Homo sapiens: one gene and its partner. The protein of the gene in region 1 interacts with the protein of each later gene in a pairwise test. Each region holds a gene or a part of one and is shown in the gene's direction. Other genes may lie near its edges.

Region 1 (3,749 bases):
TATATGATATAATATTTTTAATTTTTAAAATTAATTTCACGTACATATATGAATATTGTTTAAATGTATGCATAAGTACATACACAGTAGAGAACTGAATAATTCTACTAGTGGAAACTGTATCAATTACAATAAGGGAAGATTAGCACCAGTGAGCACACTTACTACCAGGTAGAGGAAAAGTCCAACACTATTGCAAAATGAGATTAATCAAATGTCTGCCTCTACAAAGTCAACTCTGGTCTCCTGGGAGCCCCTCCCAATATTAATATGATGCTAATAAGGCATGCAAAATGTTCCAACAATGTTAACAGACCAGATATATCTATATGTATATTTAACAAGACAATGGTATACAACCAACCCTCTAAAAGGACAATTTTGGGGAAAGAACATGCTGCAGAAGGTGTGGGCTGCTGGGCAGCTCAGAATCTTGCATCCCTATTCCTGTAAGTGCTGAGGTATTTTCATATTATTTTAAACCAATCCACATATCTTGAACATCATTTATTTCACCAATGAATTATTTCTAATATCAATTATGATAGCTAATTAACATCCCCTAGTGAAAGTGGAGATTATAGTGGTTAAAATGCCTGTTGATATATCTAATTTTTTTTGTTTTTTGAGACGAAGTCTCGCTGTGTCGCCCAGGCTGGAGTGCAGGGGCGCAATCTCGGCTCACTGCAATCTCCCGGGTTCAAGTGATTCTCCCGCTTCGGCCTCCTGAGTAGCTGGGATTACCGGTGCGCGCCACCACGCCCGGCTAATTTTTTGTATTTTTAGTAAAGACGGGGTTTCGCCATATTGGCCAGGCTGGTCTCGAACTCCTGACCTTAGGTGATCCATCTGCCTCGACTTCCCAAAGTGCTGGGATTACAGGCGTGAGCCACCACGCCCGGCCGATACATCTGATTTTTTAAAGGCCGTTTTGTTGTGCGAAGATCATTAGTTAGAATGCCTGGCTGGGTAAATACAACCGATGACTGCTGACGATATGGAACAGGCACAAGACTTCTGAACGATATGTAGAATAAATTATAACTTATCTAGAACACAAGGTAACAGTGGAAGATAATGAGCCAGGTGGAAGTTACAAATGTTGCCGCAAGTAGTTTCTGTTACTTTACGAGTTCTGGGAGCTTCTCTAACAGCTTTGACAGGAGTGAATCCCCAAGGCTAAACCCAAATCCTTATTTGCCGCCTACTCACGCCTTTGTGAGGACTACGATTCCCAGACGGCAACGCTCCCTTCACTCAACTTCCTTAGCTGGCGGGGAGACGCAGTTTACAGAACTACCTCCCCAACCGAATTTCACACACCTGTCACCTAGGACGCGGCCGGGAAGGCCTCCCTTCGATCCGCGTTCTCCCCATTTTGGGGTGTAGCTTGGATTCCTGAGCCCAGTTTTAGTGCGTGGCCGACCGGGAGGCCGGCGAGGCGCTCTAGGCCGAGCGGCTTCGTCTCTATGACCACAAGGGGCGGTCCCCGGTGTCCTGCGCGGGGGCGCGGAGGGGGCGGGCGTCAGTTCCGCGGGGGGCTGTCGGGGAACCATGGCTGCCCCGAGAGGTGAGAACTGGGTCTGCTGGGAGTGGGGAGTCCGCGGGGGGCGGCGGCGGGCGAGCATCTGCGCTGGTCAGCCCCTGTCGGGCAGCGGAGCACCCTGGTTGCCCAGTGCCTCTGGGGCCTGGCTGAGGCGTCAGGAGTTTGCGTGGAGCCGCTCCCGGCAGTCAGGGCAGCCTGCCTTCCGCTGCGGCTGCAGTCTCCGCGGCTGACTCCGCGCTGGGCAGGTCGGAGTCAGAGACCGCACTGACCTCCACTAGCTGGGAGTGGGTGGGAACCGAATTCTGACAGGCCGGGGCTGCGGCGGACCCGGAGAGAGGCCAGGGCGTGGGTCCGGGGCTGGACCGCATTACCCAGCGAGGCAGGACAGTTCTTCACCCTGGCCCCGCGGCTCCGGTCTCCTCTGCGCCTCCTACCCTGTGGATGCTCAGAGGCTTAAAGGCAGGCTCCGGGCGCAGATCCCATGCGGCGGCTGGGCCATGCAACAACCACTAAAGACATCACTGGGGCGTCAAAACAGCACTGAAATCGTAACGAAAGGAAGATAACAGTCGTTAACAGTTCCCACCTGTATGCTGTGTGTAATTATAGAGAATGCTGTATGCTGCTATTTGGGGTGGAAGCTGAGATCCACCTCCCTCCTCCTGAGGGATGGCACATTCGGGTGAAGGCGTATTTGTTGACTAATTGACATTTAAGGAGGGCGAGTCTAATTGACTCCGCACCACTTTTTGCTGAGCAGTGTGTGTAAGTTGGGACCAGAGGTGGATTCTTTGACTGTGGTGCATTAACCAGGAGAAGTTGGGCAACACCCGGATTCTTGCTCCACCCTTCCTCCATAGAGCACTTGGCTTCACCCTTGAATAAATATTGAACGAATACATAAGGAATATCTTCTTGCGTGGGTTTCAAGTTATTTTCCCTGTTGCGGGGTCCATGTTTCTCATCAGGCCCTGCCCAGGGGCATTGTCTTTAGTTGCATATGCTTCTCTTATGTCTTCTTTCTGTTTCATTTCAAATAAGTCCAATCTTAAAAGCCTTTTTTTGTAGCAACACAGGAAATAAAAGAAAAAGAAATAGAATTGTTTTGATAACTAAAATGGAATGGGGATAGCAAAATTGATCCGAACGAAAACTTATAAATTACAGAAGTCAAATCATTACTTGAAATAGCTGCAACAATGTAAAGGTTTAGGCTTATTGCCAATACATATTTGTTGAGCCTTGATTGTAATCCTAACAAAACTACAGTTTCCATAGTTTCCGAATATCCACAAAGGATTTATCTGGGACTTACAGAATTTCTAAGTTCTTAAGTATTACAAATAATGTCCCCATAAACTATAGTAAAACATAACCGAAAAAAAACATTTTAAACTGTAAGTTTCTTTTGGGGGACATTTCCACACAAACACTATATGGGAGCTAATAGAATTTCGTGAGAAGCAGGGAACAATGCAGGGTTAAGATGTGGCTGCCAGTTGAGTTGTGGGCTAGCTTTATAGTTACTGGCATTGGGTGTGATTTGAATTATTTGCCCAATTTGAAGTGATTACATATGGACTTTTGCTGTTACCCTGAAATAATTGAAATTGCTAATAACTGAAGTTTTATACTGGAGAATTTGTGAATGGAGTGAACAAGAAATAGTTTGGTCTGATGTTAAACTGCCAGAGAAAATCGTACTTAAAAACATTTAGTATTTAAAAGTTGAAATACGTTTAAAAACTGGTATTCCATGTCAAAGCCCAATCTGTTTTGCACATACCTAAACTTATTTGATTACCCTTCCACTTAGATCAGTAGTTATTTTCAAGAATATAATATATATTCCCATATACTCACTATGCAAAAAGGTATTTTTTCAAGTTAATGACAATATTATAAGTCAGAATATGTTTGTAGGCTATCAATATTTGGTTTAGTGTTTAAATATTCACTTTGTTGTTTTTGGAATCAGGAACCTGTACAGTAGCTAAAATAAAGTACTTTTTAGTTTATCAGCCCTAACTTCTCTTATTTATGAAAGTGTTGATAATCTAGGACATGAGATGGCAAACTTTTCCTGTGAAGGGCTGGATAGTCTCTTGTCATAACTACTCAGATCTGCTGTTGTAGGGAAAAAAAAGTAGCCTGGATAATTTAGAAACAAATGAGCATGGCTATGTTCTAATAAAACTATTCA
Region 2 (3,749 bases), on another chromosome or scaffold:
ATGCTGGAGAGCTGATAGGTAGCTGGAGTGGCCCAGGGAGACCTATGGGAAGGACCCGTCCTACCATTAGGGGGCTTCTCTCTATGAATGCTAAGAAACAAAGGGCATCCATTCCAAATGAGTAGCAGAGGTGACCTTCTAGGGTTTCTACCCATGCTCAGTTGTATCCCATTCCCTGTTCACCTTTTGTCCCCAGCACTGATATAAAAGCCATATATATGTTAGTCAGGTTTGCACTGAGTCTTCTTCCAATCCTTCAGCCTGGACAACAGAGTGAGGTCCCCTTGTGGCCAGAGGCCAGCCCTCCTTGCCTGCCTTCCTTTGACCTCTCTTTTCCATCCATGAAGCCCTCAGGCCCTTGCCATTTTTTCACCACAGAAAACTCATGGCTTCTCCAGAAGCCTGAGTATCTCTCTTTCCCAGCACAAATGGCAGCATCTCTATCCTGCCCCATCTGGGCCACTTCAGCTTCCTGTAGACACCCAAGACAGATGGACAGTGTTGGAGGGAATCAGGCTTTGAGGATCCAGTGTGAAGAAGTTGCAGAGTGTCTTTTTATTTTATTTTAAAAAGGGGGAAGGGGCTTTTGGTTTTGCTTTGTTTTTTGGATGAAGGAGTGAGGGAAATGAGGGAATACCCCCACCAGAAACAGACTGGAAAGCCTGCCTGTCTCTTGGAGATCCTTCTTTGTCTTGTTAGTGGTACATGGGAAGTTATGTTTTTACTGGTGTGTGTGTGTGTGTGTGTGTGTGTACTTAATGATGGGAAGGTAAGACTCTGATCAGGATTATGAACTGCGGTCCTTGGGACCAAAGGTGTGGTCATGGTAGAGAGTTGTAGGACAATAGGGTGTTTTCAGAATCTGGGTGGCCACAGAGTGGGATTTCCTGGTATGGACATCAGAAGTCACTGGACTCTTCTCCCAACCCCAGAGTTATGGGATTTTGGTGCTTTCTCAGGGTCTCTCCCCAGACTCACTCTTCTCACCCATATCCCACAGACTCACTCATGGAGACCCCCTTGTCAATATCCCCTCTACCTTTACTCCTTTGCCCTTTCCCAATTCATCTTCTACCACCTGGATTCTTTTCCATTCATGAACTTCATTCAGCCCTTCCAAAGCCCAAGATTTGCATTCCCTTGACAGGGAGGAAAGGCAATGGTAGGAACCTCTGGTGGTCTGGGTGTCTATGTGCCTGGTGACCAGGGCTGGATTTTTATTACTCTGAGCCCACTGCTAGTGAGGAGCCTTGAGGGGTGGGGACAGGTTGCTGAGTGATTTTGAACGTTGACACCAGTGTGGAGCCAGTGTGGGTGTGGGGAGCAGTGCCTTCCTCAGGTCCCAGCTGGTCCTGATATGCCACGTAGTGGATGGCATCTGTCTTGGTCCATGGGCTTGGTGGGAACATGCTTCTGCTTGTGTGTTTTCCATACCTGAGGGCTGACGTAGCTTAAACCACAGGGCATCATGCCAAACACTCACTGCTGGGCAGGTTTATTTCTGGGGATGTCAGGGTACTGGGGTGTAGGCACTAAGCAGGATAGAGTTAGGGTGTCTGGCTAGTAAGGGGTTCTGGACGCCTCTGGGGCTGTGAGTTTTCATCTCAAAGTCTGTTCCAGAGAAAGGAAAGTAGTATAGAGGTGATTTTTAGAGAAGCTGAGACCATGAAAACAAGCCTAATCCCATCCAGAAACTGGGGTAAAGTCTGAAAGTTCGTTTTCTTCTTCCTCCCTGAATAATTGTTCCAGAAGGGATGCTAACTCTGCCAGAGCTACAGGCAGATTTTTGGGCTTTGGAAGTGGAAGCTGAGGCCTGGGGAAGGCTGGGTAAGGAATGCTGGGGCAATCTCAGACAGTAGGCAGGTGCTTGGCATGAATGAGAAGTGACTTTCCTGGAGTCCCTCAGTAGAGGATGAGATAGCAGGGATTAGGCCACAGTCTCAGATCCTGATCTTTTTTCTTCCTAGGAAAGCATACATAACTTGTGTCTGCAGAATCAGTGTGGGATGATTTTGCTGGCCCAAGGCTTCAGCGAGAGGGAGAAGAGAGGTCACTACAGCCCTCCTGTGGGTAAAAGCAGCTCTCTTATAAACCTGCCTCCATGCAGTGGGGTGGGGGTAAGGGTGGGTGACAGCAAAGAGGTTGAGGAACCTCCCTGGGTTTGGGGAGTGAGAGCTTCCATGTTCCCTTAATGTCCTAGGTTAATTCATAAGGCATCTGAGTCCTGGGTCTCACCCAGCCTCACAGAGAGAAAAACTGTCCCTGAGGGTGTCCCCTCCCACTCAAAGGTAGAAAGAGATTGAGCCAGGAACTGCCCTCATATCCTCTGCTCTGCCCCTTCCCTTCCCTTTCCTCTGCCCCTCCCACCTAAAGCTGTTTGGGGCCCTTTCTCAGAGCCCTGGGTGGTGGCAGGCAGGGAGGAGTCCCAAGATCCTGGTGGCCCTGAGCCCCATGCTATGGTTGCCAGATTTGGCAAATAAAAATACAGGATGTCCAGTTACATTTGAATTTCAGTTCAACAACAAACAATTATTAAGTGTAAATATGTCCTAGGCAAATAGTTGGGACATATACTAAAAAATAATTTGTTGTTTATCTGAAATTCAAATGTAACTGGTCATCCTGCATTGTGTCTGGGAACCCTACCCTATGACTTTTCCCCCTCTCCCTTTGGTCCCAAGGGGCCAGGAACCCCAAGGATTTGACTTAACCAGTTTTTTGAACTGCAATATTGAGAAGGGGACACTGTGACTTGAAGACACATGAATTACTTTATTTTTTAAGCAACAACAAAATAAGAACCTTCTGAAGCCATTTGAGCCTCATCTGCCCCCATCCGTGTATATTTAATTATATATAAAAGAAGATAATTACCTAGAAACATATGAACAGAATCTTGTTTAATCAAGATGCATGTCTATAACTTTCTGTAAATAGCCGCATGGCAATGCTGAGAGTCCCCTTGATCCCCAACCTCAAACCCATTTTACAGAACTGGTTGAGGCTGCTCCTTTGATTTTATGTCGTGTAAAGTCTTTGTTCCCCAGCCCCACCCCTGCCTCCTCCCATCGGGAAACCCCCCATGGGAGTCATCAGTGGGCGGGAGTCGGTGCCTGCTCCAGTCCAGCCCTGCCTTGGGAGATGCTGGAGGACCCTGTCGCCCTGAAGGCCTGTTTGCTGCACATCTGCCTGCAGAGCCAAACCTCAGGGCCCGGTGCAGTGTCCAGCCTGGTATCTGGCATCCCAGTAGCTTCCATGTTCTGTGTATGTGTGTGGTGTGCCCCTTCCTCCCACTGTTTGAATTCACTGAAAAGCCATAAAGGGGGCCTCCTGCTGGAGATTTGGCCTCCCTTGGCTCCTCCCAGGAGCCCCCATGTCTCTCCAACTGGCTCCCCACAGACCACTTCTGAAGGGCTCACCTGTTGTCACTCCCTCCTGCTCCCTCAGTCCCGTGTCATGAGAATGGACGGTGTCCAGGGCTTCCGGTGGGGTCTCAGGAGATGCCCATGCTGGCCCTGCCCGAGCTGGCTTTCTCGGCCTGGGTTCACAGTTCAGCTCCATCTCTACGCTGGGCGAGGAGCAGACAGCAGTGGGACTCCATGGTTCTGGATACCTTTCCTGGGGTCCCTGTGGAGGCAACCAGGATTTTCAGGAGCAGCCAGTCAGCAGCTCAGCCAGGGATGACAGAACCATCCCTGCTTACTCACCTCTGTAGTGTGAGGGTCTGTGGGTGGTGATGGAGGAGGGAC

Evidence for each region. The genes of interacting proteins can lie anywhere in the genome.
Region 2: the proteins of SLC35A1 (region 1) and SYT2 interact in binary tests that used the Homo sapiens proteins (3 or more experiments, as listed by UniProt).

Annotation. Positions count from the first base shown.
Region 1 is NC_000006.12:87,471,450-87,475,198, forward strand, and holds the start of SLC35A1 (CMP-sialic acid transporter), read left to right. Parts: upstream 1-1,524; 5' UTR 1,525-1,554; coding exon 1,555-1,570; intron 1,571-3,749. UniProt on the Homo sapiens protein: Transports CMP-sialic acid from the cytosol into the Golgi apparatus, functioning as an antiporter that exchanges CMP-sialic acid for CMP. Binds both CMP-sialic acid and free CMP, but has higher affinity for free CMP.
Region 2 is NC_000001.11:202,591,706-202,595,454, reverse strand, and holds part of SYT2 (synaptotagmin-2), read left to right. Parts: 3' UTR 1-3,749. UniProt on the Homo sapiens protein: Exhibits calcium-dependent phospholipid and inositol polyphosphate binding properties. May have a regulatory role in the membrane interactions during trafficking of synaptic vesicles at the active zone of the synapse.